Linked DNA regions of Homo sapiens: region 2 is linked to region 1. The links come from fine-mapping of genetic effects on gene expression. A gene starts in region 1. The other region holds a variant in brackets. All regions are shown on one strand. Distances are from middle to middle.

Region 1 (16,151 bases):
AATAGTGACATGCTGTAATAGTTCCTTTGGGCTGCTGTAATAAAGTACCAAAGACTGAGTGGCCTAAAGCAACAGCACTCTATTCTTCCATAGTTCTGAAGGCTAGAAGTCTGAAATCAAGTTGTCAGCAGTGCCATGCTCTATAGCTAGCCTCTTTTAGCTGCTGGTGTTTGCTGGTATTCCTTGGCCTGCAGATGCATTACTCTGTTCACATGGCTGGGCTTCTCTCTGTGTATCTTTGCTTGGTGTTGTTTCTGTGCCTGTCTGTGTCCAAATTTTCCCTTTTTATGAGGACACCTGTCATACTGGATTAGGGCTCACCCTGATGAATTCATTTTAACTTGATTACCTCTGTAAAGACCGTATTTCCAAATAAGGTCACGTTCTGAAGTGCTGAGGGTTAGGATTTCAACATATCCTTTTGGAGGACACAATTCAACCCATGAGACATGCTAAGAGAGAAGCTAGGTTGGGTAGTTTTGCTACTTTAGACAGAGTGGTTAGGGGTAACCTTTTTAATGATACATTATTTAGGTTGAGAACAGAAAGATCCATCCAAATGAAGAATCTGGACAAGAATGTTGTTGATTAGAAGAATAGTGAGAAAGAATCCATGGTCAGAAAAAAGGGCTTGGCTGTTGCCGTGGTGAACAGAAAGGTGGCCACTGTGGCTGGCCCATAGAGAGCCAGAAGAGTGGTGCCAGATGGAGGGAAGGGACAGGCTGGAGACAGCCCCAGCAGAGCCTTATTTCTGAAGATAAGGAATTTGGAATTCATAAGTGCAATGGGAAGCTATTGAAAAACACAGGTCTGATTGATATTATACAAAGATTATTTTGGCTGCCATTTGGAGAATAAGTTGCTGTATTAGTCAGGGTTCTCTAGAGGGACAGAACTAATAGGATACACACACACATACACACACACACACACATATATATATATAAAGGGGAGTTTATTAAGTATTAACTTACATGATCACAAGTTCCCACAATAGGCTGCCTGCAAGCTTGAGGAACAAGGAGAGCCAGTCCGAGTCTCAAAACTGAAGAATCTGGAGTCTGATGTTCGAGGCAGGAAGCATCCAGCACAGGAGAAAGATGTAGGCTGGGAGGCTAGGCCAGTCTCGCTTTTTCATGTTTTTCTGCCTGCTTTTTATTTGCTGGCAGCCGATTAGGTGATGCCGAACAGATTAAGGGTGGGTCTGCCTTCCCCAGCCCACTGATTCAAATGTTGATCTCCTTTGGCAACACCCTCATAGACACACCCAGGATCAATACTTTGCATCCTTCAATCCAATCAAGTTGACACTCAATATTAAACATCACAATTGCAATCGAACAAGAGTGAAAGTAGGGAGACTTCCTATGCATAGGACAGATTCTAGATTTTCCTTGTGATACAGAGAAATATAAGACATAAACTTGTCTTCAAAGACAGGGCAATATGCTTGGGGAAACAACACAATTACATATAAGCAGATATTAGACTACATAAGATATAATAAACTGTGTTCTAGGAGAATGACATTCATTAGATTTCACTCAACATATATTTATTGAGTGTCCATTAAGTGTTAGGCATTGTGTCAATATAGGAACAAAAGAACACTACATTAAGTACATAAAGAGATCAGAATCACACATGGAATAAATGACAAAAATGGGTATAGGTTATGCTGGGAGGGCACAAATGAGAGAGTGGTCAATTCTGTCTAATGAAGTAGTTGGGAAAGAATTAATAAAGACAGAGACATTTTATTCGATTCTTAAAAGATAGACAAGAACCCATATTTATCTGGCAAATAAGTTGGAAGATGGTTAATGTAGGAAAAGGGAGAGAAGTTGGGGTCATCACATCAGGCAAAAGAAGGGGATTGAGCAAAGGTCAACAGGTATGCAGAAGAAGTGCACATTTGCAGATTATATGGGTTCACAGCAAGAGTTTGGAGGAAGACTATGTGGTGGAGAGTTTTGTTTTTATTTTTTATGGCTCCCTAGGCCATAATCCTCTTTTCTATGTGTGGGGGAATATGTTACTGTGTGAGTTGGGGAGACAGAGTCCAATTTTCCTTTATGATAGCTCTCTCTAAGCCCTAGTGCTGAGGCCTAGCAGGGTTTGGGGATCATTAATTCGTCCTGGTATAAAACTGAATAGCTGTTGGATTTTCTGTAGCAGTATTCAGCATACCAGGTATAGGAGCATGGTTCAATTCATTTAATATTGTGTATATTAGGAGTGGGGATTGTGGGAGCTAGAAAATTCAAGGAAGACAGAAGTGATTTTTGGCTGGAATGGTTAAGGAAGGTCTAAGGAGGTGAGGGATTTTTATTCAGATCTTGAAATGCAGGCAGGAGTAAGTAGACTTACTGGGAGGGGAAGTTAGCAGTGGAAGGAATACTGAGTAAAAGAATGGCAAAGGATACAGGATCAGATGTGGGAACAGATGAGGCATATGGGAGATCTAATAAACCAGTCTGGCTAACATAAAGCCATAATGGAGGGGGTGTTGAAAGGGTACATCTGATAAAGTTTGGATAAAGTACAAATTCCTTAGCCTTGAATTCCAAGTCATATCTTCCAAGCAATGAGGATCTGTTGAAGGTTATTGTGTAGGAGAGTGATTAAGATTAATGTGGTGGCAATTTGCTATAAGGATGAGAAGAAAATTGACTCCAGGCAGGAAAACTGGGTTAGGAGGCTGGCAAAGGAATCTAACATTCAGGGAGCAATAAGAGAGGAAAGGAAGGGACTGAGAAGCAATAGACAGAATGTATTCCCTCCTCTGTGCTCCTGGCTCTTTTCACACTATAGAACTTTCACTCTCAATCATGAATATTCACATAAATGTTTATCTCTCCCCAATTGTTTCTTCCTGCTTCCATTTCCTCCCCATTTTTATCTCTGTCTCTCCCACACTGTTTCTTTTTCTTTATTTCTGTGTTAATTATTTAATTCATCAAATATTTATTATTTACATAATGGACATTGTACAAGACACTAAAGGTTCAGAGAAGGGAATTCAGTTCTCCTTGGAAAACCAAAGAGGGGCTCAACCACAAACCAAGTAGAAGTTTCTGCCAGAATTTAGGGGTGCATAGAGGCCTTTCATCTATATTCATGCATCGCCTGAACCCAACCTAGAAAAATGACAAGGAAGTCATCAGGGGAGCAGGTAGAGGAGGATGCAGAGGTGCAGCAGGGAACTGCTGGTCATTTGGCGAACTATGTCACAGGACCTGTGTGCAGGAGTGATGAACCATGATTGGAGAAGTTAGCAGGGCCTTGTGTATCATGCTGAAGAACTAAGGTTTATTCCAAATGTGTTGGAGGTTCTTCCAGAATTTTACATAGAAGAATAATATCAGATATTTTTAGAGTCAGCAAAACTGAGGATTTATACTCTCAGGCTCTGGAGTCAGATTGAGAACAGAGTGTTACTCAGGGTTAGCCACTTGGTGGCCGTGTGACCTTGGACAAATTACCTAGCCTTTCAGCCTCAGTTTCTTCTCTAAAATACTTTTTTTAAAAAAAAATACTACCTTCTTTGTAGGCATTGTTTTTTATTTGGTGAGAATTAAATGATATGTTATTTGTAACATTCTCTTATTTTTACCTGATATTGACAAATTATTATTGTATATTTTATGGGGTACAAAGTAATGCTGTGATACATGTATACAGTGTAGAATTATTGACTCAAGCTAATTAACATATCCACAGTCTCGAATGGAATACTTATCATTTATTCCTCCTGTCTAACTGAAACATTGTACCCTTCAACCAACATCTCCCCATTCCCCTGATTCCCCAGCTTCCGGTAACCACCATTCTGCTCTCTGCTTCTATGTGTTGGATTTTTTTTTTTTTTAGCTTCCACATATAAGTCAGAACATGCAGTATTTGCCTCCATGTCTGGTTTATTTCATTAGCATAAAGTCCTTCAGGTTCATTCATGTTGTCACAAATGACAAGATTCCCTGCTTCTTTGAGGCTGAATAGGTTTCTAATGTGTATATATACCATATTTTCTTGTCCATTCATCAATTGATGAACACTCAGATTGATTCCATAACTTGACTGTTTTGAATAGTGCTGCAATAAACATAGGAGTTCAATATCTCTCAGACTTCCTGATTTCAAATCTTTTGGATACATACCCTGGAGTAGAATTCCTGGATGTTATTTCTAACATTCTTAGTACAGTGCCTGGCACATAGAAAGCTTTCCAAACAGATAGCTACTCTTACTAGTAATGACTAGGAATGACTTATCACCTCAGTCATTGTTACTATTATAAAAACTACTCTATAAACTATTATGAACACCACTCATCTTGGTGTGCAAGATGAGCCAGAGATGGGAATAAGCTGGAGGAAGGGAGATCAGTTAGGAGGCCTCTGGAATAATCTAGGAAAGAATATTCTGTTTTCTGTCTGGTGCCCAGCTGTCGCTCAGAAGGAGCTTTAAAAAAAGTTTGTGGAATAAATGAAAAGGAAGACTGAGCAGAATTCAGTGATTGATTAGCTCAAAGAAACCAGGGAGCAAACGAAAGATAACTGCAAGACTTGGAGATTGAGTGACTGGAGAATTCTGGTACTATGGACACAAAGAAACCTTCTCTCTTTCCACCCCTCAGCTCTGCGTTCTCAGGCCATTGCTCACCTGACATCTTTGGATGGTTGGCCGCTTTTTGAATTTCACTCACTTGCTCAATGACTGTGGTGTGCAGGTCTGCTGCTTTGTCTTTTTCCAGAATGCCTTGTCATAACTATAGTAAAGGTATATCTGAATTTAGAACCCCGACAATTCAAAAATCTAAAACCCCACTTACAAATTGGGTTTGAATACATCTCTCAGGTTGCTTCCAAATCTTTCTTTCTTTTCTTTTCTTTTTTTTTTTTTCATTTTTAGATCATGTAGATGTCTCAGGGAAGACTTCAGCATCTGTGCCTCTGTTGGGGCATTAATAGAATCCTATGCTTTTACATCCATTATTGTATTTGGAACAAAATATCCTTTATGGTCATTTGGTATTATATATTTTCTGTTTTGTATATAATATGAAATTACATATACAGTCTATTTTAGGTCTCATATCATTATAAAACAAAACAACAACAGCAACAACAAAAATTTGGCTCAGCTTTTGGCTTTTATACTTCTGTCAACTTGTTATTTGTACTCTGACTCCAAAGACAATTGGAGAAACTTGGGAGCATAACACAAGATTTTATTTTAACCAATTGATCTGTCCACTGCTATGGACTGATTTTTGCACAAAGTAATAGCAGGTTGGGCTGATGCCATGGTTCTCTGATTTTCTTTTTCTTTTCTTTTCTTTTCTTTCTTTCTTTCTTTCCTTCTTTCTTTCTTTTCTTTCTTTTTCTTTCTTTTCTTTCTTCTTTCTTTCTTTCTTCCTTTCTTTCTTCCTTTTTCTTGAGTTTGATTATTCTGATTACTAAATGCCTTGCAATTTGAAAAAGAACAGAAGTTATGAGCTTGTACTAGGAATAGGTTAGCCAGGTTCAAGGGTCTCACAACATTTAGAAAGATTGTTTTTAAGAAAGAAATAAAAAAAAAGTCTTATAGAGAGATCAGTGACACTTCATAAACAAGTTTGCAATGCTGTCTACTAGTATAAATGACCGTACGTTGATCTGCCAGACTCATTGCCCGGCTGTTTTTGCCAGGGCACATATTTGTGAGACAGCTGCTCCGAACTAGGGAAGGTCAAGCAAAAACCACTGCCTGTCTAGAGATGGCTGTCCTGATGTCAGTCTCATTAGTTCCTGAGTTCTTGCCAAGTTAGTAAGAACTAGCATAGATCTGGAGGTCAAAGTTTAGCAGAAAGAGCCCCCACAGCAGTGTGCAAAGAGCTCTTTTTCTGTTCTACTCTTTTTTTCTCTACTGGTCACCTAGTTGGTGTGTAGCGTGTGTGTGTGTGTGTGTGTGTGTGTGTGTGTGTTTCCCAAATAGTACTTGAAGGATAGGAAATTAAATGTCTGTGGGAAAAAGCAACATTTTGGGTTCTCAGCATTTTAGTCAGCTGCTTTCTTACTTTTCCAGACTGTGACTATTCTTTGAAGCTATTAAAATCTATTCTTGGTAATGAGAAAAGGGAGTGACTTGATGGTTCTTTTCCAATTGCTCTGTGTCTGACAAGAAATACCTAAATACTTTAATTTGCCTTTTTAAATTTCCCCTAGTGGTGGCAAAACAATTCTACTCCTATTTGTCAGGGAAAAAAATCTCTGCCGTGAATTTCAGTGCTGGGAACATAACAAGACAAAAAGCTACCTGGGCTAGCCTGTTTCTCCAGGATGAAACAAAAGGAATATAGATTTTAGCGGCTGCTTTAACAGTTTGGTAAAGGATCTGGTCTATCTTGGGTGTGGGAGATGGGAGGGGTAAAGAGGTCAGAATACCATTTAGATCACAGACAGAAAGAAACCAGGAAGTAAGGGGAAATTATTACAGTCTGTTCATAGCTCAGAATGTTAAAGGCAACAGCCTCTGCTGGTTGGTTATTCATTAGCAAAAAGGAGAGAGCCGTCCAGATCCGGACTGGTCGAAAGACAGGAACAGACTTGAAACAGGGGGAGAGCTCCTGGCGAAAGCAAGACGTGGAGGTTTTACCAGGGGTTAGTAGCTTCCTCTTGCTAACTTTTTATTGGGACAAAAGGCAAGATGGCACCATTCTGTTCTCAGATATTTGTCTAAATAAAGCCCTTTTAATTTTATTTTATTTTTGTTGTGGGATTCTTAAGCAGATAAGAAGAAAAGACACCTTCCTAGTGAGCAGCTGCCCAGCTCCTGCTCAGTTTTGCCTCGGGGTAGCACCTCCAGCCACAGAAAGCAAGCCGGTAAGTCTCTCCAGGTAGGACTTGCTGCAACCCAGCTGCTGGACTGATCTGAAACGGGACTTTGCATACTCTCCGAAGTATGGTGAGTTGGTGCTGACTTCAAAGTTGCCTGGTGAAGGAAGATAAGGTGGATCGCAGAGACTAAGGGGAGAGGGAGAAGCCCTGCTCCTCTTCTCCCCACCAAGGCACAATGAGCAACATCTGTCAGAGGCTCTGGGAGTACCTAGAACCCTATCTCCCCTGTTTGTCCACGGAGGCAGACAAGTCAACCGTGATTGAAAATCCAGGGGCCCTTTGCTCTCCCCAGTCACAGAGGCATGGCCACTACTTTGTGGCTTTGTTTGATTACCAGGCTCGGACTGCTGAGGACTTGAGCTTCCGAGCAGGTGACAAACTTCAAGTTCTGGACACTTTGCATGAGGGCTGGTGGTTTGCCAGACACTTGGAGAAAAGACGAGATGGCTCCAGTCAGCAACTACAAGGCTATATTCCTTCTAACTACGTGGCTGAGGACAGAAGCCTACAGGCAGAGCCGTGAGTAGTACAAACTTATACTTAATTTCTGAACTCTCTGAGGGCTGGGTAATGAGTTTTCCTTTCTACTTCTCTACAACCCCCTAATGTCCAAAGAGTTGCCTAAAAAGTATGAGGAAGTACTGGCAAGAAACCACTAATTGAAACACACCTCCCCCGCTAAGTGAGTGTGAAACTGGCCAGTAATTGTTGTTGAGATGACTTCAATTACAGTATGTACATCCACAGGTCCAGGGTGTATTTTCAAAATAAACAAATGATGTGTTTAATACTGTACCTTCTCTTTGGCTGTAAAATAACTCATGCCTCACTTTAGCAATAAAATTGCATTTTGTTTGAAGGTAAATTATAAGACTTCCCTTAATGATATTCTCAAATCTAAACTTCAGATTCTTTTTTTTAAAAAAAACTTTTGAAACATTCCAGGGTAATATATCAACTCTAGCCCTAGCTCTAATCCTAATCCCTTTCATTCTGATGGGAATATACAGGGCTAATGTAGAAGACAACACTTAGAAGATACTAATGTTCTCAGTGACATCATGATATAGATTTTTTTTTAATTCCCAGATCCTGAGATATGCTACCCAAATTATGATATCTTTTGGTTTTTATTATGATTAGAAACTGGCCAGCTACAGACATTTGGTAAATTTTGATAGGAAAAAGGACAACATCTCCTTGAAGAGGAGATAAAGACTTTATCCTGGTATTTGAATGAAATATGAATTATATTGCAACAAAAGAGGAAAGTTTTTATGTACTTATTCACCCATCCATCCATCCATCCATCCATCCACCTACCACCCCTCCAAGTGCCAGGCATAGACAGTAGTGGGCCTGGTGAGTTGGGGAGGGTAAAGGAGATTATTCTAGTAGTGACTGAATACAAAGTGGATAAAACATAGTCTTGACAATGGATACTTGGGGTCTGGTGGGTTGGGAAGCAAATGGAGACTGTCATTGGCCCTGATCTCATTGCTTCCTGAATCCAGTGAAACCTTAGACTGGGAATGTCTTTCAAAAAATGTACTCATTTTTTTTTTTTTTTTTTTTTGAGACGGAGTCTCGCTCTGTCCCCCAGGCTGGAGTGCAGTGGCGCGATCTCGGCTCACTGCAAGCTCCGCCTCCCGGGTTCACGCCATTCTCCTGCCTCAGCCTTCCAAGTAGCTGGGACTACAGGCGCCTGCCACCACGCCCGGCTAATTTTTTTGTATTTTTAGTAGAGACGGGGTTTCACCGTGTTAGCCGGGATGGTCTCGATCTCCTGACCTCGTGATCCGCCCGCCTCGGCCTCCCAAAGTGCTGGGATTACAGGCGTGAGCCACCGCGCCCGGCCAAAATGGACTCATTTTATAGAATGGTTTCTTAATAGGGAAACCATTGGAGATTCTCTTATGTTCTCATGTAAGTGTTTCTTATTTTTATGTGAGCGTCCCTTACTGGTCCAGGGAATAAGATAATAATAAATAGCCATAGAGCATTGTTTCTGCTTTCCAAACTCATACATCACATATGAAGGGAGGTTTGACGAGTTTTGAGTTTTGAGATTCTTTTCAACACCAAGAACCTATAAATGTTTAGAAGGGTCTTAATTTATGCTTAAATAGAAATGAATTGAAATATACTTTTAATGAATGGAATTGATCAGTTATCAAGTGGGAAAATCACCTGTGTGAACATTTGCTTTCTGTGATAATCTACAGGAAATATCTTTATATATTGGATACACTTATGTGCATTTATCTGTTTTCACTACTTTATGATTTCTATGTCCTGTATGGCATTATGCATATTTTATATTTGGCATAACATGTATATTATAATAATAATATATTAATGTTTCATGCCTTGAATTCATAATCTGTTAGTTTTAAATATATTCAACTCATATAACTACTTAGGACCTCAATTTCCTCATCTGCAACTCTCTGGGGTTGCCATGACCAATGGATTTCCTGACTATCTGGGAACAGGAGCTCTTATGTTCGTATGTAGTGGTTCAGTTACATTCATGCTTGACTGTATTAGAAATGCTGAAGAAAGCAAATTAACTGAAACAAGTCAAGCAATCCGAAGGTATCATATTCTGGGTAAAAGGCTTGAGAGCAGTGTTCTTATTAATTTAGATTTTCTTTGCCTACAAACACAAAATAAGGCAACTAAATTATTATGGCTATTTTTGATTCTCAGAGTCATTTGTAGCCAATAATATTTTTTCCCTCTGCACATTACCTTGACCTTTCTTCTTGGAATTGGTTCTCAGCAGCATTCCTACCTGTCAGTACCATTCTAGATCTCTGTAGTTAGCTTTCCTTGGGATCTTCACATCCACTGGAATAAAAACCATGATGCCCAGAAAATGCTGCCACTCTGCCTCCTGGCTGGAACAGGCTACTTGTTTTCTTTTAAGTGCACACCATGGTCTTCACCTGTGAACCTGGCTTACTTCTGAAGTTTCTTGTCACCGTAAGGCAAAATTGCTTCAATACTCTTAGTGCAAGTAGCTGTAGCTTCTAGAATTCCCCTCCATCTCAAATAGAAGCGATTTTTACTGAACAGCCTTCTGCGTGAGTGTGTCCAAGTGGCTCACACAGTACTTTAACACTTGAAGAATTATATAAAAACAACTTATTTTAATATTTTTTCTTCAGTGAGTTTTTTCAAAAGTCTATTTTTTTCTCCTGAATGCTGTGAAAATTAACGTAATTTTTTAAAATCATGAGCTCAGTAAGTTGACTTAAGGAAAGATTATTGTTTATATCCACATGTATGGGATGAGTAGGCAATGGGAAACCAATGAAAGCTGTCATCTAATTCCTAATTAGACCAGTTTAATGCAACGTATGTTAGTATTTGTGTTTTTATGTCTTTACTTTTGATGTGCATCTGTAAGAAGAAACTGCAAATACTTCTGGAGTTATTGGTGCCAGGGAAAATTAGTTTAAGGCTTTAGTTTGCAGTTTGTTTGTTTTCTTTTATACTTGGAAGTAGAGATGTTGAAAAACAAACTATTGTTTAAAAAGCCCAATTTACTAATTCTTATCCCACTTAGAAATGCTTTTCACCTTTACTGAATATCTTCCACTAAGTGATATAATAAACCAATTCTTGAAGATTTATTTTGTCTTTATGAAGAATCATTAGATTTATCTTATCTTCGACTTGAATTTATTCCTAGCTCATTTTAGAGATGAGTCTTTTTCTTCAACATCTTCAATGTGAAATCCCTCGAAAACCTTGCCCTTAGGGTCTTATTAATCAGAACTTTCTTTAATATTTTATTTATGGTGTTTTTAAAGATATAAAGTTCACATAAAAATAATGATGTGGAAATAACATATAAATATTAGAACCAAAAGTAATGGCTTTAAATTTCATTGCTTTAATTGTAAAAAATTCAAGTATTGCAAAATATTGATAAAAAGCAATATGATCAGCAATAATATTAGACGTAGCATCATTTATCTGCAAAGAGTTTAAAAAGTTTTTTTGCTTAGGGAGGATCACCTGTGTCCAGGAGTTCAAGAACAGGCTGAGCAACATAGTGAGACCCAGTCTCTACAAAAAAATTAAAAAATTTGCTAGGCATGGTGGCACAAACCTGTAGTCCCAGCTACTCGAGAGAGTGAGGCTGGGGCAGGAAGACTGCTTAAACCTGGGAGGTTGAGGCTGCAGCAAGCTATGGTTGTGCCACTGCACTCCAGGCTGGGTGACAGAGCCAGACCCTATCTCGAATCCCCACCAACCAAAAAAAAAAAAAAAAACCAAATGAACAATTTTTTGCTTAATTGTTAAAGTGTACCTTAGGTGTTGTCTAACATACTTTTGTGTTAAATTGAACTAGGGTCAGAGATGAGATCAGTTTAATCTCCCAGAAAGGGGATTGGTAGGAGGGGAATGGGGTGGACATAATCACATAAGCCAGCCACTGATGATTTCTGCTTCGCCAACTTGACCACGCAAGCCAAGGGCAGCAGTTGAGATAGCTGATTTGACTCCCCTTTGCATGTTAAGTTTAAGTTATGATAACAACAATGAAATGTGCTGCTGAACTTCTGACTCCATACACTTCTCAAAGACATAAATGAAGATTCTATTAAGAAAATTAGATCACTACAATCATCTCTAAAGTTTATTGTTTATTAAGCTCCACATTTTTCTAGGTCATATTCTTGTGTATCTTCTTACTTGTGAATCAGTAATTTTGTCTTAAGTCCATTCTATAGGCCTGGTATGGTGCTAAGTGAATGACTCAGCAAAGGCAGAGGAATTAGTATTTGCTTTGTTATATATATATAATTTGGCTTTATGTTAAGAAATATTTCCACACTTATGTGTGAAACAATAAAGGCCATAAAGTTTATTTCTGTCTCCTAAATTTGAGCATGGCATACCTTTGTGGGTAGGAGGGCTAGAGGAGCCACCCATACTGACCTACGATGGTGTCTTTGTATCTCTTGTTAGCACTTTAGCAGGGGAAGAAGCAAAGTACTGGATTTTGTAGAAAGTTTTTCTTCTCCTCTTATTACTGTGAAAGGTAGATAATTTCCAATTCCTCATCTATTCATCATTTCAGTGGCTTCCTTGAAAAAGAAAGCAAGAATAAATATTTGTAACTTGTAGTTTTGTTGGTAGTTTATGATTATGGTATAAAAATGTTAGAATGTTCTGAAGTATAAAAGTAATGGGATTTTTCTCCATGTATTTAGGCCATATTTTCCTGCTTGTGCTGCTCTTTAGTGTGTCAGACTAGAGTTCTTTGAAGATTTTATCTAACCTATGATGATTGCCATTGTCGAGCTTGAAAGCAGCATGGTGAAACAAAGTGGTATATTCTTGGAAAGATTCTTATATCACCTATATCACCGTTTTAAAATAGAGTGAGGCTTTGCTATTTTGTCATTTGAATGCTGTGGAATTTAATAATTATTGAATACAAATTGTACATAGTGTGCCTAATCATTTTCAACTTAAATGTCAGCAGATTTTTTTCTTAGCTGGGATATGAGACCAGCTTTTGCATCTTAATTATAGGTATAGAAACAATGTGGTTTAAAAATTAACATTACCCTTAATACATTTTAAAAGTCATCAGAATATTCATAATCCACTCTGACATAATAGATGTTATCTACTTTGAGAAGTTTGAATTATTAAAAGTCACCAGTGTGCGATCAGTTCCACAATTGTTCTTTATCTAGATCATTTATTTTGTTCCCTTTGTGTAAGTTGTCAGGGAAGACTAAATGCCCATGTGTCAAAATGAAAATAATACCTAGTAATAAATGCCTGAAAATAATGCCTGGCATTTCTGGGTTCTCTCCTCTAAGACAAAGTATACTTACTATAATTTTAGAAATGAAATAAAAAGGTATTTATATATATAAATAACACTATATTTATAAAATATAGTATTATACTATATTATACTATATAATATATAATATATAGTATAATATTATAATAGTATAATATACTATTATATATTATATATATTATATTATATATAATATAGTATAAATAATATATAATATACTATATAAATAATACTATATTTATAAAAAATACACTATAAATATACATATGGTTGTTTATCAAGTGTTTTGGATTAATCAAGATAAAAATTTTAGCACAAATCATTTAAGTCAACCAAAAGCATATTTAAATGCCATGAGATTAATTAGCGTTACTGTCCCCATCCTTTATTTTTCACCATATGTTATTTATGATGATGTAAAATAAGAATATGACAAATACGTTTTTAAAATAATTTATCAAAAAATTTCATCTCAGGTATAATATTATTTGACTTCATGTTAATATAATTGTACTGTTTATGTTAATATAACTAACTCAATTTGTTATATAATAAATTTTTACATAAATTGCCACTATTTTTAAGAAAAATAATTAACTACTAAATTAGAATATATTTCATAAAAATAATAGCAAAATCATAGATGTGAAGAAAAGAGCAACCAATTCAACTATGTTAAAATCCCAGTTGAAGTTTAATTAATACCTGTGTCAAGTAATTAATAGCAGTAAAGCTTGATTACATGCATCTCAAAGTACCTTTGAGAACCAGTGAAGTGACATAGTATGGCATCATTAAAATGAGTTAGGAGTCTTTTCTAGGAAAAGTAGCAACATTGATAATACTTTAAAATTTCCAATTGCAATATGTCATTCAGAATCACTCTTTAGTAAAAGTATTGATTATTTTTGCTTTTCAGGTTTTCTACAAATTACTAACAATGGGAAAAATCTTATGTGAGTGAAATAAATCATTAACTACTGAGCTCCAGTCTTAAAGATTAGAACCCAAATTTTAACTTGATCAAATTTATTCTTTGAAAAGAAAATGTTCTATTGGATTCAAATTGGTTTACTTTTGTTCAAATGAATTAATTTAATTCCATGGTTTGTCTCTGCAGATACATCCTAGTGTTGCTTTTTGATGAATAGAAGTCAAGAATCTCACCAAACTGAGATTGTCAAAGTAGACACAACCTTCTATACAGTAAAGCAGGACTAAATTCTTTTAGCAGCTACTATATGCTGTGCACTTTCATTGTTCTTGAGGTTACCAAAAGAGGAAAAACCAACAAAACTTTGCCTCAATTAATTCTTGTTGCAGCTCAGAAAATTCCCTTCAGATTTTCTAACTACCAATACAATAGTGAGAACCTATATGGGCAATATAAATAAGAGCAGCCTTTGGGTTCTTCTGGTGAATGTTTCAACTAGATCCAAACATTAGTGTATGGAGTTTTACTGAAATATAATGCTGGTTACCCTTTTTGACCTAGCCTATGGTATGCCTAAGAACATAAAATATAGGCTCAGATGATCTAGATTTGAATTTGACTCTGTAATGTCTTAGCTGTGTGAGCCTGAGCAAATTACTTGACCCCTCTGCCTCAGTTTCTCATCTGTTAAATAGGAATCACAGTGACACCTATCTTATAGGATCATTATGTGACATAAATGAGACTGTGCAGAAAGGGTGCACTGCAGAGAACCTGACACATAGTAAGGTTTAATAAATATTATGTTTCATTTAGTTGGCAGCTCCTCTTTTACTTCTGTCTAAATGGATCATACTTTACACCCCCACTCTAGTCTGAGCTCACAATATTCTTTCCCTGTAACAGGTGTCCTGGACATTGAGTGTCTTTCAGTCTTCGACCGTCTGCACTCTCCCTCACCTGCAGCCTTGGTCTTCAGATGGGCTATTCTCTCTGCCTATAACCCTCTCCTTCCTCTTTTTTTCCTGACCAGCTTAACTTATCCTTCAAGTCTCACCCTATTTGTTCCTCCTTCCCCAAGCCTTTCCTGACATACTAGACTACATGAGGTGTTCCTGCCTAGAGTTGTTAGCACCCTTTGTCTTTACTGCTAATTTATTTTCTGCAGTGCTGTAAACTATGGATGTGGGTAGTGGAAAGGTGAGCCATTGCTCCTCCCAGAGCTTAGTATGATACCTGTGAATAATAAGCACTGATTGGGTAGATGAATAACTAAATGAATGATTGCTTATCTACAAATCTCAGGTCTTTTAAAGAGCAGCCCACAGAGACACCTCTTCTTTAATTGTTCCTCTCTGAATTGCATTTTTACCTACCAGAAAATTCTACATTAAAGGCATAAGCTATTTTTTATTCATTTCTCAATGAAATTGCTCATGCCTTAATATTTGGTTAGACTCACAGTCATAAAAGCATAATTCCCAGGTTCTCAGAAATTAGTTGCTCTAATCCACCTCTGGGGAGAAAATACTTAAGAGTCGTAGACCAATTCAAATATTCTTTGTAATGTAGACTGAATATCAAGTCAGGAACAGACTGTAAATCTCATTGAAATGGCGTCTAAAAATCACATATACACATATTAAACCATACTATGGTTATATTTAAAGTAGAGGATTTACTGGCCAGAGCTTTTAAATGGAGAGCAAATCTAGATCCAATTTACAAAATTAATGTTGTGGGGCCAGACTTGTAATTTCAGTTTTTATGCTCAATATACATAATTTCTAATTATTATGTGTATGAAATATTTTTCAGCTTACATAAGCTGAAAGTCTGACTCTTCACTGAATATTAATAGATTTTTACTGTACATTCTAACATTACCAAAAAATAATTTTATCTTCTTTTTACTAGTTTTCTCACTAATTAACTACTAATTTCTCTGCAGCATTCTCTGACTCCCATTTTAAATATGGGTTCTTAGCTCTTCTTAGCATTGAAAGGATTGAGCCAGTTTCCCTAGGGAAGGTAGTTATATAGATTAATAGCAGTTTTAACGATATTGCAGGGTTCCTTACAGATATTTTCCTAAAGCCTGCAACTTTAGTATTAGTTTATATGGCTGTTCCCTTGAAGATTAATGTAACAGAAGAAATTTGCTAAAATGCATAGATGCAAATGTAGATCATATACTCTGGATCACTTACTTTATTGCTTATTTGGATAAATTCAGATACTGTCATAGACTGTCCCTTGTGTAATATCTTTCTGTCATGATGCAATTTTTTTCTACAAAGTTTTTTAGTTGAATATTTTTCTATTTACCAATTGAGTCGATTGAATGTCAGATTCTTTAATGTTTTTATTAACGTATTTTTAATATTCAGATGGTGCATTTTATAGTGCCTTTAAATTCAGACTAAATTCTCAATCAAATACTTTTTTCATGATTTCCGTGCCTTTTTATGGGTAAAATAAAAATGCAATTCAGTAA
Region 2 (16,151 bases), 110 kb before region 1:
ATGGTCCAACATACTCATAATTGGGGTCCCAGAGAAAGAGGAGAGACAATGGAGCAGAAGAAATATTTGAAGAGATAATGACCAATAATTTTTCAAAAAATAATGAAGGATATCAAACACAGATCCAATAAGTTCAGTGAGATAAATACTCCGCCTACTTCAAAATCTACCACATCATAGTCAAACTATTAAAAAGGAAATATAAAAGGGAAATCATGAAGGTAGCTAGAGAGAAAAAATGTGAGTAATATAAAATAACTGCCTTTCTAAAACTAACCTATAGTGTCAGAAATCAGATCATTAGTTTTCTTGGGTGGGAGGTAGAGATGGGGAGGACTGCCTCCAAAGAAACTTCCTGGAAATGCTCTGTATCCTGATTGGAATGGCAATTATACAAATGTATATATGAGTCAGAATGCATCAAACTCTATACAAAATATACATATTTTATTGTATATAAATTATATCTCAAGAAAATTAAATTTCTGAAGTTAATAAGCCTAATTCCTTAATTTTTAAAACAATGAGTAGATAATCCTGTTCATGGAAATATTCTATATCCCTTACTAATGATTATTATGGTCATTCAATAACCTAATCCTTAAGAAAAGGAGACAAAATGGTTTATTATAAAACATGACTTTTTAGATGTATCTTTAATACTACAAGAAACCCTTGCTATCCTAAAATGGCTTATGTAGTGTTTGTAGGGAACTATTAATAATCCCATTAGGTTGAATTAGCCATGCTTTATGGTACCAGTGGATTGCAAAGCAAGTGGTAGAATTGTAGACTGAGTCCTTCAAAATGGAGTATGATGAAAGCAAAATACAAATTCAGAAAAGTTATGAGAGCTAGAAAGGAGAGAAAACAAGTACCTGTATAAAAATCGAAGATGTCTTTAAAAAATCTTATTGAAAATAGTAAAGGGAAAATGCCTGAATTCTCTATTCTACCTAATCTTCACACAAGTTTTTCTTTTTCATTACTTTTATCATGAAACAAAACACGAATAGGAAATATTTTATTCACTTAACATTGGCACTCTAAATTTTATATTCAGTGGTGAAAAATACATTTAATCTAGTTATGAGCATAATTTAAGTTGGTTATTTCATTAATCATGCATATCGTCTTTTCCTTCAGGAGTGAGGGGAAGAATTAACACTGCTGAACAGACCTATTAGTAAGGTCAAAATGGTATGTCTATGATATTTCTTACGGAAGATTTCCAAATAAGTATATTTTTTTCTACTTCAGGCAGGGGAATTTAACACCTACCCGTCACTCTTGAGAGTGGGCTGGACTTAGTGACTTGCTTTCAAAAAACGGAGTATGCAAAGGGGAATAAGAGTAACTTTACAGTAGAGAAACATGGCAAATGCTATGTTGGTCAGGTAATCAAGGTTAATATTAGCAGTGATGTCATGTTGACAGCATGTACCCCTCATATGATGTGATAAAACTAGTTCTTCACTTCTGTGAAGTGAACCACAACTGCAGTCTAGTCATGGAAAACCATCAGACAAAAGCCAAATGGAGGGGCATTTTATAAAATACGTGGCTAGCACTCCAAGTGAGAAATTGTCACAGACCAGAAAAGACTAATTGAATGTGATGATTAAATGCAATGTGGTATCCTGAATGGGATTATGGGACAGGAAAAGGACATTAGTATAAAAACTGGTAGAAGCTAAATGAAGTCTTGTGGTTAGTTAATAGGAATGTGCCAATGTTGGTTTCTTAGATGTGACAAAGGTACCATAATAATGTAAGATGTGAACATTAGGGTGATATTCAGGATCACTCTATATTGTCTTTATCATTTTTCTATACATTTAGGGATTATTCCAAAACAAAGTGTATAAGACAACCAAAAAAATAAATAAATAAATTACAAAAATAATATGTGCAGGAAAAGAGGAGCCCAAGGAAATTTTCTGAGCTGGGTCTGATTTTTACCACAGTCCACAGCTCCTCATACCCTGAGGAGCACACTCGCCCTCGCTCAGCTTTAGTGTTGCTGTTGCTCAAAGCGGGAACCCTCTACATGAAGTGAATGAAGCTCTCTGCTCTAAAGGGACTGACAGGCTGCCTACCTCTCTCATTACACCATTGGAGGATTCTGTTCTGCTGTCCAAAAATCACACAGCTGGAAGGAACCGTCAGTGTTTTCCCACCCCAGATGGGAGAAGGTATTTCAACTTCAGATTGTTAAAGAGTAAATGTTCTAATTTATTTTTTAATCATATTTTTCTAAGTTTTAAATTTTGCAACTCTTAAAAATAAAACGTGGAGCAGCTCCATGTGTATTTCAAGTTGAGTGGTAAGGAGTAGCCACTGACACAGTTATAGTTTACACTTTAGATGAACACTGCCAGGGGCTGTGGTTTAGACACATACAATGTTTTTAGCTATCATTTTTAGTATATTGTGTTTAATTTATCTCCATAATGGATCACCACAAATTTTGAACTTTAAAAGTTATAGAAGAACATAAAAATGACAATTCCATAGGTTCTCTCCAAAATAATATCTGTGAATTGTATTCCTCTGATCAAATTTCTTATGTAAAAAAATTAAGATATCTCAAGATATAAATATAATTTTATCCTAATTGGTTATCCACACCTGCAATGTGAAACTGTAGAAAAGTGCCTGCAAAAAGAATCCTGAAACATCCTATCTTACCTCATCATTTGGAAACCAAATAAAAACAAGGAGAGTAGATTTTCCTAAAGGTCAAATTTCAAGAATTCCAAACATCCAGATGTGAAAAGAGTTTTGACTATTTTTGATGCCTGAGTACATAAAGAAATATAATAAATACTTTAAAATTTCTCAGGAAATAATCTTTTCTTATGTAATTAAATAATATATGTTATCTGCTATACAGAGAAAACATAAACAATTTCCTTACAAAGTATATATGTTACTAAGGTGTGGCCTGGCGCGGTGGCTCACACCTGTAATCCCAGCACTTTGGGAGGCTGAAGTGGGTGGATCAGGGGGTCAGGAGATCGAGACCATCCTGGCCAACATGGTGAAACCCTGTCTCTACTCAAAATAGAAAAATTGGCTGGGCGTGGTGGCGTGCGCCTGTAGTCCTACCTACTCAGCAAGCTGAGGCAGGAGAATTGCCTGAACCCGGGAGGTAGAGGTTGCAGCGAGCCAAGATTGTGGCACTGCACTCCAGCCTGGGCAACAGAGCGAGACTCTATCTCAAAAAAAAAAAAAAAAAAAAAAGTTACTAAGGGGTTATACTAAAATGAACTTGACAATCCAATCTTTAATAATATACTTATCTAATATAACCTTAAACTTAAAACCACTTATTATATACTATGTAAAAGTGAAAAAAATAATTTTCAATCTTTCTATGAGGAAATCATGAGATTGTATCACTTAGGAAAGGGTTTACAAATTTACAACAGGTTAGGAAATGCTCAACTACTTCAGTCATCTTGACTTACAGATGGAAAAAACACTGAAACCATAGATGTGTGGATGGAAGTGAGAGTGTTTTCTCTACCTTCCTCTTAATCTTTCTACAACATAATTTCTCTTTTAAGATGTGGCGGCTGTCATACAGCTGGCTATCCATCAATAAAATCCTATCCACTAAGCAAAGCAGGTCAGAAAACTCTCTCACTCTCGGACTTAAACTTCCCTGTATATAGAAAACAAATTTAAAGACAACTGTTTAAGTACCTCTTTAATATCAAAACACTAAATTTACAAATTGCACATTTATGCAAATGGTTGTACCAAGGCTTCTCTCTGTACCCCAATTGCTCAACACAGCTCCACTGTTCTTACCATGGGAGAAAACCGTAAAAACTCAGTATTCTGGAATAATCTTTAAATTCAAAAGTAGAATAGAAACAGCAGAGAAAAGTATAGGGGATACCAAAGAGAGAATTCAGCCAAGTCAAATATAGAATACACTGTCTTCCTGCTTTTCCTACCTAAACCACATTATTGCCCTATTCTTAGTCCCCCCAAAAAGGTAGGCTCTCAAGTTATATGACATATGGTTTAAACAAGTCTTTTGTAAGTACCAGTCTGAAATCTGATTATTATTACGATGATAATAATCATCTTTACCACCACTAACACTTGCACAGCCTGGCTTTTTTTATAAAGTATATTCCAAATTTCTGACAAATAGATTACAAATGGCCTTTTAGAACAGTGTCTATTTATAATTCCTGGTCTCAAAATCCACAAAATAATGCTTTTCTAGTCAAAGCAAAAACCACATATTTATTTGATTTTATAATGTGTATTCTTCGTAAAATAATAATCTTGGCAATTAAAAAATAAGTTAAGTGATTAAAACATTAAAATATGTAAAAGGTAGTGGTGACAATAATATAAGTGGGTCATTTAACCTTACATATATTCATTTATTCAACAATCACTTATGGAACACCTACTATGGATCAAGTGCTATGTTGGGGATTTAAAAAAAAAAGATGACTTCTAAGGATATTACAGGCCAGTAAAAACAGAGAGATGTGTGAATCATTAAGTCCAATGAAGAGGCGTGGTAGGGTGGTAACAGGCTAAATAAAATGAGACCACAGAGGAGGAATGGGCAGGTCAAATACAGAATGAGGTTTGACAGGCTAGATGTCAGGAAAAGCCTTAAGGGAGGAGGTGACCTTAAGCTGCAGTTTGAAAGATAAGTTGGCCCTGACAGATAATGAGGATAGGCTACACGGCAGGTGGGAGTGAGAACTGCAAGATCTTCTAAGGTGATCAACTGAAGGTACTATGCAGTATTTTCAGTTGATTTCAGAGGTATTTCCTAGTACCAGCAAGCAAGCAGTTTGCTAAGGCTGAATTTTGGGGTAGGGAGGTACAGCAACAGCCAGGGCTATGTATGCTATGCTAAGAAACATGGCTTTATCCACAAACAGTTCTTAATAGTTTCTGAACATATACCCTATTTAGAATTTAAAAGTGACTAAAACAAACAAACCCAACAGCTAAGGTGCACTGATTACTTATTATGAGTCAGGTACTTTACGTACACTTCTGATTTAGTTATATATCCACAAAAGCCCTTAAACAGGAACCATTTCTATGAGAAAATGGTGGCTATGAACCTGGTACTTTCCCTGTTGGAAAAAATAAATGGTGGCTAGATAATCTGCCTACAAGCACACCAACTACGTGGCAGAATAGACTTCGAATTCAGTTTAACTTAAGTCTGTACTCTATGAACCCTTTCTTTTGAATTAAAAAAAAAGTACATATATACACCACAATTATCTTCTTAATCAGGTCACACCCCCCAATCACTGGTGGGGACACAAGATAATCTCCTTTCATTCCATATCATCCCCTAGCTATGACTCCTTTTGTCTCTCCACTTCACAGCAAAACCGACAGAATGTTTATATATAAAGACACTGGCCATATCCACTTCCTAATTTCCCCTTATCCTTCTAAACTTGTCTTCCTACTGAAGAAAAGAGGGATTAGCTATGGACAATGTCGCTTATGGCTCCATATTGCTAATCCCATGGCCAATTAACTGTCTTTCTATTACCCAATGGCTCAACAGGTGACTAATTCTCTTTGTTAGTTCTAGGAAACCCCTCTCCCCTATTTCTGTTGTTTTCCTTTCTTCCTTATCTACCTTTCTTCTCAACTCCTCTTCTGCCCTAAGAACTATAAATGCTGGATTATCACTTGCTCAATCTGAGTTTTTCTTCCTTTCATAAATATCATCTATACACACTTTCAATCAATAGGTTTTTATTGATAATCCTCTGAACTCCAAATGTCTGTCCAATTGTCCACACATCTCCTCTAGGACATCACATGGGTATCTCAAACCCAAGAGGTCCAAAATAGAACTCTTCATTCCTCATGTTTTATCCATTTGTTAAAATTTCTCAATAAAAAATAAAGCTTAGCAGATAGCAGGTACTACAGGCTACCCCATACCTAAAGAGCTCATGCAATGCTGCATATAGTTGATCAGTATGCAAAATGAATAGCTAAAATCCTCAAAAGGCTTGTTAAGATATATATTTTCCTACCATATAGTCTTTCATACAGAACTTACGGCACCTATCATGATATTCTGGCTAATCACTATGCTTACTGAACTTACAGAAGTGGCAATATAGTAAGCATAGACACAAAATATTGTAACAGTCATAAACTGGAAACTATAACATGTTTTCATTTTTTAAATGTTGTGGAAATTGGTCTCTTGCTTCTGACAGTGGAGAACTATGCCATTTGAACAAATTGTCTAACTGAGGATAACTAGAAAAGTTAAACAAACTTTAAAAAATACCTGCTTAACAGCACTGAAGAACCAAAATGTCAATGAAGATTTAAGAGGTCAAGTTGAGAAGCTGAGGAAAAGAGAAACCCAGAAAGCTGAGCTTGGAATCTGGGGCTTCTGCCTGGAATTAGCAGTAACACCAACTTCAAGAAAAGTAAAGGAGAGCCTAAGAAGTCGCAATCTTCAAGAGGCTTGGAGGACAAAAAATGGAGGCCAGTGCCTGCCAAGGTTAGGTAGAGGCTAATAAACTCTCCAGGGTTTATTAGAAGTTAATGAGCTCTCCAGGTTGACCCAAAAGGCTATACTACAGAAAGAAGTACGAACCAGATATAATACAGCTCTCAATGGCCTGAAGCACAACTTCACATCACCTCAATCTCTAAAAATTGATGACAGGTGATCCAGGAGTGCTAGAGCCCTAGCTGCCTGCCAGAAGCAAACATAAGTTCTCCCTGTAGAAAGTTATCCTAGACCTCAACATTTTTCTCTGTAGAAAAGTACTCTCTGTAGAAAGTAATCCAGACCTCAACATTTTTCTATAAAATTAAAAAAAACAATAGCTAGTATCAATAAAAAATTATCAGATACTCAAGGAGACAATATAATATAAAAACAAAACAAACAATCAAAAAAAGGGGGAAAATACACGACAGAACCAGATCCACAGCAGCTCCTATGGCATGAAGACAGACTGAACCAGATCCACAGAAGCTCCTATGGTATAAAGACAGACTTGAAAACTATAAATAATAAATTCAGGAAGCTCTAAAATAAAATCAAGATTTTGTCAGAGAATTGAAAAATAGAAAAAGAACTAAATGGAATTCTAGAACTGAAAAATACAGTAATCAAAATTAAAAGCTCAATGGATAGGTTTATAAGCAGATTAGACGCAACTGAAGAGAGAATTAGAAAAATGGTTAGAAATGAGATTAAAAGAAAACAGAACAAAAGGCAGACAAGAAAAGAGAGAAGGTGAAAGATCATAAATGATAGTAAAAATATCTTCTAAAATATGAATAACTGAAATCCCAGAAAGAGAGAAAAGAGAAAAGGAGCAGAACAATATTTTTAGAGATAATGGCTCAGAATTTTCCAAAACAAACCAATGGTGTTAAGTGAATATCTGAGAAGCCCTCCAAGGAGAATTTAAAAAAAAAAAAAAAAAAAGACACCAGGTACATCATAAATCGAAGATGAAAAACCAAAGACAAAGAGAAATTAGTAATCTCAGCAAAACAGATTATCCTTTAAAGAACAATTATACTGATAACTGAATTTTCAACATAAACAATAGAAACTAGACTATAGTGCAGAAAATAACCATTAACCTAGACCTCCATTAAAAATATTCTCTAAGAATGAAAGTGAAATAAAAAAATTTTCAGAAAATCAACATCCAATACACAGATATGATTGTTTAGCTCTAATGTTACACTTCATTTGAGCTAAACAATCATATCTATTCATAACAACTTGAGGGCTATGCAACGTAATTATCCAACAACGGTCATGGGCATTGACTTTTCTAGGAAAGCTCTACTTCCCAAGTCACTGAGCCGAAACATTGCCTATGAACAATTCAAACAAATTAAAAACTAACGAAGGGTAGAAGGGTAAGAAAAGAAGGAAGTAAAAAATGCCTGTCAATTTATAAAATATTGCAATTTTATCAAATGAAATCAGTACAAATAACTGGTATCAAAATGATGCATATTTTTTGCCTTAGAAAGTTCTATGTGGGCTGGGCACGGTGGCTCACACCTGTAATCCTAGCACTTTGGGAGGCCAAGGCAAGTGGATCACAAGGCCAGGAGATTGAGACCATCCTGGCTAACACGGTGAAACACTGTATCTACTAAAAATACAAAAAATTAGCCGGCAGTGGTGGCGCATGCCTGTAGTCCCAATTACTTGGGAGGCTGAGGCAGGAGAATCGCTGGAACCTGGGAGGCGGAAGTTGCAGTGAGCTGAGATTGTGCCACTGCACTCCAGCCTGGCGACAGAACAAGATTCTGTCTCAAAAAAAAAAAAAAAAAAAAAAAAA[T/AAT]CTTCTATTTGAACTAATTTTACAAACACCTTTTAAGTACAAAGTATGTCACTTTTATATCTGATGCATTTGGTTGAACATATACAAATCATCAGTGATAAAAGATAATTCTACGGATATCACATGCTCTGAATAGTTTTAAGTGTGATTTAATTTTCTTGGGGGCAAAAATTTATAAACCATCTTTATAAGTCCTATAGTAGGCCTAATATGCAACTCTGTACAGAGTAGGCTCCCCAAAACAATTAATAAAGACAAGAAAGGAAGGCAAGATACTTCCTTGGCTCAATTCTTTGGCTCAATTCTGAATAACAAAAAATTATTCTCATTTCAAGGTCAGATTCCAGACATTTCAGAATTTCAGTCCTTTCGTCTTTAAATAGAAACCACTGTGATGAAGTTTACATCAGGGAACCATTTTTATCTCTTACATAATTTAAGTAACTACTAGATAAAAGATGAAAAGTCTCTGAAACTTTAGTAGAAATTTCTCATGGATTTAGATAAATAACTGAATTAACTTTTGAAATACACTACTGACTTGGTTTTAAGAGTGTTTTTTATCAGCATGTAGAAAAGGATGTCAGCAGTGAAAACCTCAAGGGAAATATCTGGGAAACTGGGTAAATGGAGATCGATGCCAGGAGTTTCTCACTCTCTGATGGCCCAACACTCAGCCTCTAGCAATTCATCACAATTACTAGTCAAATATCCACTATTCCCAATACCATTTACAGAAGACAAAATCCTTCTTCCATTGTGATTTCTTAGCACCTTTGTTGAAGATTGGTTGATCCATTCCTTTATGTTTTTAATTAGAACTGAATATCCAACCACCATGTATCAAAATTGTTGGTTAGGAGGAATCTGGATGGCTGACTAGGGATTTTGGATGTCAGTTATCCTCAGAGAGAAGATCAAAGACATAGATGAATGGTCATGATCTGAATGGAAAGCTTAGGGAAGATAGCCAGGATCTGTTGGAGACCCCACTGGTTGATGTGGGGTTGCAGAAAAGGAAAGCAGCAAGAGTCTCGCAGAGATTGACTCCCGAGAACCTCTGAATCCCGCCTGAAGGGTAGGTTGGGGTGCTTCTCTTCTCCCTTCACCCCTGCAATAAGCTGCTGACTGCCAAATTGTCAGGGAGCCTTTCTACCTTCATGACCCCAGGCAATGCTGTCAGTGCGGATTTAGGATCTTCCTGGGGACAGAGCACAGAGTGGCTAGTTTGTGCAGGTATCCCCTCACTCCCCTCAAGCCTGAGCTGAGAGGACAGACACCATACTGGTTGTGCATTCATTGTGGGCTACTACCCTGCATGGGGAATCTCAGCCCAAGTTGTTGCAATCACCAGTACCCTGCAAACATAGCCCAGAACCTGCTCTGACTTGACAACCACAGGGGACCAGCAGGTCCCTGGGGAGCTGTGGGATTTCCAGACATTCAGCCCTAAGCACAGGCTGCCCCTAGAAGAGGGGGAAGTGCGGCCCACTAAGAACCCCCTTGGGACAAAGGAAATGCAGGTACAAACTGATCACTGAATGGGGTGGTACTGGTGGTTGGTAACAGATGTAGAGGGGGGTCATCTCCTGCTCCCTCAGTCCACTGTTGTGGATGTAGGAGAGGCATTTTTCGAATTAACCCAGTCAGACAAAAATAGAAAAGAGAATTTTAAAAAATGAACAAATCCTTTTAAAAATACAGGACTATGTGAAGTCACCAAATCTATAATTTATAGGTATTCCTGAGAAAGAAGAAGAAAAAGTAAGCAATTTGGAAAACATATTGGTAGAAAGAATTCAGGAAAATTTCCCTGATCTTGTTAGAGATATAGAAATCCATGTGGAAGAAATCCAGAACACCAGTGAGATATGATATAAGGTGAACATCACCAAGGTATATAGTTATCAGACTATCCAAGGTCAATGCTAAAGAAAAAATCTTAAACGCCACTAGAAAAAAGGATCAAATCACCTATAAAGGAAATCCTATCAGACTAACAGCAGATTTCTTAGCAGAAACTGACAAGCCAGAAGAGACAGGGATCTAGTTTTAGACTTCTTAAAGAAAAATAATGCCAGCCAATAATTTTTTTTTTTTTTTTTTTTCTGAGACGGAGTCTCGCTCTGTCGCCTAGACTGAAGCGCAGTGGTGCAATCTCAGCTCACTGCAAGCTCCGCCTCCCAGGTTCACGCCATTCTCCTGCCCCAGCCTCCCGAGTAGCTGGGACCACAGGCACCCACCACCATGTCCGCTAATTTTTTGTATTTTATTTATTTATTTTTTTAGTAGAGACGGGGTTTCACCATGTTAGCCAGGATGGTCTCGATCTCCTGACCTTATGATCTGCCTGCCTCGGCCTCCCAAAGCGTGTATCTTTTTAAACTAAGCTTCATAAATGAAGCAGAAATAAAGTATTTCCCAAACAAACAAATGCTAAGGAAATTTGTCACCACTAGACCAGTACACCAAAAATGCTAAAAGGAAACAGAAAGATGATACTTGCTACCACAAAAGCACACGTAAGTACAAAGTTCACACATCCTATAAAATAATTACATAATTGAGGCTACAAAGCAACTAGCTAACAATATTAGGCAAGGAACAAAACCTCACATATGCATATTAACCTTGAACATAAATACTTGAAAGAGATAGATTAGCAAATTGGGTAAGAAAAACAAGATTCAACCATCTGCTGCCTAAAAGAGACCCACATAATGTATAAAGACATACACAAGCTCAAAGTAAAGGGGTGGAGAAAGATATATCATGCAAATGGGGAACAAAAAAGACCAGGGGTTGCTATTCTTATGTCAGATAAAATAGACTTTAAACCAACAAGAGTAAAAAAAGACAAAGAAGGGTATGATACATGATAAAGACTTCAACTCAATAAGAAGATTTAACTATCCTAAATATATACATTACCCAACACCAGAGCACCCAGATTTATAAAAGTACTACTACACCTAAGAAAATAAAATAAAAAGCCATACAATAATAGTGGGAAACTTCGACATCCCAGAGAAAACACCAAACAGATCACTGAAGGAGAAAACTATCAAAGAAACTTGACTTAAAACGGGCTCTGCCAAATGGATAGACACCTAAAGAACATTCCACCCAACAACCAAAGAATATACATTTTTCTCATCTGTGCATGGAACTTTCTTTAAAATTGACAATATGCTTGGTCACAAAGCACATTTCAATAGATTTTTAAAAATCAAAATAATATCAGGTATCCTCTCAGAATATAGCAGAATAAAATTAGAAATGAATGCTGAAAGGAACTCTCAAAACCACATACGTAAATGGAAACCAAACAACTTGCTCTTGAATGACTTTAACAAAATTGAGGCCGAAATAAAAAAGAATTGGAAATGAATATAGACATGTAACATATCAAATCTAGGATACAGCAAAAGCAGTGTTAAGAGGAAAGTTCATAGTACTAAATTCATAAATCAAAAAGATAGATCTCAAATTCGCAACCAAATGATGTACCTAACAAACTAGAAAAACAAGAACGAACCAAACCCAAAACTAGCAGAAGTAAAGAAATAAAGATCAGAGCAGAACTAAATACAATTGAGACTAAAATATCACACAAGGGATCAACAAAGCCAAAAGTTGGTTGTTTAAGAAGATAAACAAAAATTGATAGACTACTAACTAGATTAAACAAGAAAAAAAGAGGACTCAAATAAGCACAATCAGAAATGATAAAGATAACATTAAAATTGATACCACAGAAATACGAAACATCATCAGAAACTACTATGAACATCTCTATGCATACAAACTAGAAAACTTAGAGGAAACAAATAAATTTCCAGAAACATACAACCTCCCAGATTGAACCAGGGGGAAATTAAAATCCTGAACAGACCAATAACAACAAATTATAAAATTGAATCAGTAATAAAAGATCTACCAACCAAAACAAACAAACAACAACAAAAAAAAACCCAGGACCAGGGGAATTCACAGCCAAATTGCACCATATATACAAAGAAGAGCTGGTATCAATATTACTAATATATATATATATATATATATTTTTTTTTTTTTTTTGAGACGGAGTCTCGCTGTGTCTCCCAGGCTGGAGTGCAGTGGCACGATCTCGGCTCACTGCAAGCTCCACCTCCCGGGTTCACGCCATTCTCCTGCCTCAGCTTCCTGAGTAGCTGGGACTATAAGTGCCTGCCGCCACGCCTGGCTAATTTTTTGTATATTTAGTAGAGACGGGGTTTCACCATGTTAGCTAGGATGGTCTCGATCTCCTGACCTCGTGATCTGCCCGCCTTGGCCTCCCAAAGTGCTGGGATTACAGGCGCTCTGAGCCACTGTGCCCGGCCTAAAAATACATATTTTTTAAATTGAGGAGGAGGAATTCCTCCTAAACTCATTCTATGAAACTAGTATCATGCTAATAACAAGATCCAGCAAGGATAACACAAAAACAGAAAACTATGGGCCAATATCCCTGATGAACGTAGATGCAAAAGTCCTCAACAAAATACTAGCAAACTGAATCCAACAGCACATCAAAAAGATAATTCATCACGATCAAGTGGGTTTTATTCTGGGAACACAAGGATGGTTCAACATATGCAAATCAATAAATGTGATTCACCACATAAACAGAATTAAAAACAAAAATCACATGATCATCTCAATATGCAGAAAAAACATGCAATAAAATCCAACATCTCTTCATGATAAAAATTATAAATAAACTAGGCATTAAAGGAACATAACTGAAAATACTAAGAACCATATTTGACAAAGCCACAGCCAACATCATACTTACAGGGAAAAATTGAAAGCATTTCCTTTAAGAACTGGACCAAGACAAGGATGTGCACTTTCACCACTCCTATTCAACATAGTAATGGAAGTTCTAGCCAGAGCAATCAGGCAGGAGAAAGAAATTAAAGGCATCCAAATCGGAAAAGTGGAAGTCAAATTATCTCTATTCACTGAGGACATAATCTTACATTTAAAAAACCCAAATGATTCCTCCAAAAGACTCCTGGACCTAATCAATAACTTTGCTAAAGTCTCAGGATACAAAATTAACACACCATAATCAGTTGCATTTCTATACACCAACAATGGTCAAGCAGAAAACCAAATAAAAAACTCAATCTCATTTACAATAGCCATAAAAAAACATAGACTATCTAGGAATACATTTAAGATGGTGAAAATCCCATTTACAATAGCCATACAAAAACATAAACTATCTAGGAATACATTTAAGATGGTGAAATACAAAGGAGAATTATAAAACAATGAAACTGTAGATGACACAAACAGATGGAAAAACATCCCTTGCTCATGGGCAGGAAGAATCAATGTCATTAAAATGACTATACTGCCCAAAGCAATCTAGAAAGTCAATGCAACTTCCCATCAAATTACCAATGTTATATTTCACAGAATTAGAAAAAACAATTATAAAATTCATATGGAACCCATAAGAGCCTAAATAGCCAAAGCAATCCTAAGCAAAAAGAATAAACTTGCAAGCATTACATAACCTGACTTCAAACTACACTACAAGTCTAATGTAACCAAAACAGCATGCTACTGGTACAAAAATAGACACATAGATCAATGGAGCAGAATAGAGAACCCAGAAATAAAGCCACACACCTGATCTTCAACAAAGTCAACAAAAATAAACAATGGGGAAAGGATACCCTACTCAATAAATACTGCTGGGAAAGCTGGCTATCTATATACAGAAGAATAAAACTGGACCCCTATTTCTTTTTTTTTATCTGCTTTATATAATTTTATTTTTATCTACATTGTTATATCAATGCATCTTTATTATTATTTTTTATTATTATTATACTTTAAGTTTTAGGGTACATGTGCACAATGTGCAGGTTAGTTACATATGTATACATGTGCCATGCTGGTGCACTGTACCCACTAACTCGTCATCTAGCATTAGGTATATCTCCCAATGCTATCCCTCCCCCCTCCCCCCACCCCACAACAGTCCCCAGATTGTGATGTTCCCCTTCCTGTGTCCATGTGTTCTCATTGTTCAATTCCCACCTATGAGTGAGAACATGCGGTGTTTGGTTTTTTGTTCTTACGATAGTTTACTGAGAATGATGATTTCCAATTTCATCCATGTCCCTACAAAGGACATGAACTCATCATTTTTTATGGCTGCATAGTATTCCATGGTGTATATGTGCCACATTTTCTTAATCCAGTCTATCATTGTTGGACATCTGGGTTGGTTCCAAGTCTTTGCTATTGTGAATAATACCGCAATAAACATACGTGTGCATGTGTCTTTATAGCAGCATGATTTATAGTCCTTTGGGTATATACCCAGTAATGGGATGGCTGGTGGACCCCTATTTCTTACCATATACAAAAATTAACTGAAGATAGATTAAAGGCTTCAATGTAAGACCTCAAACTATAAATATTATACTAGAAGAAAATCTAGGGGAAACTCTTCTGGACACTGGCCTAGGCAAAGAATTTATGACGAAGACCTCAACAACAAATGCAACAAAACCAAAAGTAGACAAATGGGACTTAATTAAACTAAAGAGTTTTTCTGCACAGGACAAGAAATAACACAGCAAATAGACAATATACAGAATGAGAGAAAATATTTGCAAACTATGCATCTGACAGAAGGACTAATATCCAGAATCTGTAAAGAAGTTAAACAAATCAAAAAGAAAAAAAACCACAAAAATTCCATTAAAAAGTAGACAAACGGATATGAACAGACACTTCTCAAAATAAGACATACAAGTGACCAACAAACATATGGAAAATGCTCAACATCACTAATCATCAGAGAAATGCAAATTAAAACCACAGTGAGATGCCATCTCATACCAGTCAGAATAGCTATTATGAAAAAAGCCAATAGATAACAGATGTTGGAGAGGATGTGGAGAAAAGGAAATGTATATACACTGTTGGTGGAAATGTAAATTAGTTAAACACTTTTGGAAAACATTATGGGCATTTCTCAAATAACTAAAAGTAGAACTACCCTTTGATCCAGCAACCCCACCACTATGTATATACATAAAGGAAAATAAATCATTTTATCAAAAAGATACCTGTACTTATATGTTTATTGAGCACTATTCACAATAGCAAAGTCATGGAATTGACCTAAGTGTCCATCAAAAGTTGACTGGAATAAAAAAAATGTGGTATGTATACACTGTGGAATACTACACGGCCATAAAAAGTAATGAAATTGTGTCCTTTGCAACAACATGGATAGAGCTGGAGGCCATGATCTTAAGTGAAACAACTCAGAAACAAAAAAACAAATATCGCATGTTCTCACATATAAGTGAAGTACACATGGACATAAAGATGGAAATAATAGATATTGGGGACTCCAAAAGGTGGGGGCTGGGGGAAAGCACATGTTGAAAAGTTACTTACTTGGTACAGTGTTCACTATTTGGGTAATGGGTTCACTAGAAACCCAAAACTCACAATTATGCAATATACCCACGTTAACAAACCTGCACATATATCCCTTGAATTTAACAGAAAAGGGGAAAAAGATGACAGCAGTGTTGTGTGTGCTGCAGGGAGCATAAAGAAAATTACAGGCTATAGCTACATCATACAGATTCAGCAAGTTTGCAAATTATTCACATGACATCCAGAATACCCGACAGATATAATGGTGAAAAAAGTCTGCAACATTTAAGACATTCTATAATGCATGGTATACTTTAACTCAGAGGCAATAAAGAACAAAGGAATGGGTAG

Which allele goes with the higher level. Alleles are on the strand shown, and positions count from the first base shown. SD is a standard deviation of normalised expression in the study named.
In carriers of allele AAT in region 2, the expression in prefrontal cortex of the gene that starts at base 6,477 in region 1 tends to be lower than with T alone (large effect, 0.88 SD a copy in BrainSeq).

What was found. PIP is the estimated chance that this variant, and not a neighbour inherited with it, causes the effect. A credible set is the group of variants that fine-mapping cannot tell apart.
Region 2: its variant is the best candidate, but not a certain one, in a credible set for the expression of FRK in prefrontal cortex (BrainSeq, PIP 0.52).

The regions. Positions count from the first base shown.
Region 1 is chr6:116,051,217-116,067,367 of GRCh38, reverse strand. It overlaps FRK (fyn related Src family tyrosine kinase), which reads left to right and starts at 6,477. Exons shown (of 8, transcript NM_002031.3): 1 at 6,477-7,400. The coding sequence starts at 7,057.
Region 2 is chr6:116,159,413-116,175,563 of GRCh38, reverse strand. All of the region lies in intron 6 of NT5DC1 (5'-nucleotidase domain containing 1), which reads right to left. It also overlaps a transcript of COL10A1 not described here. Among named protein-coding and RNA genes, the nearest start is that of COL10A1, 41 kb to the right of the region's middle. The variant T/AAT (reference allele first, on the strand shown) is at 8,358.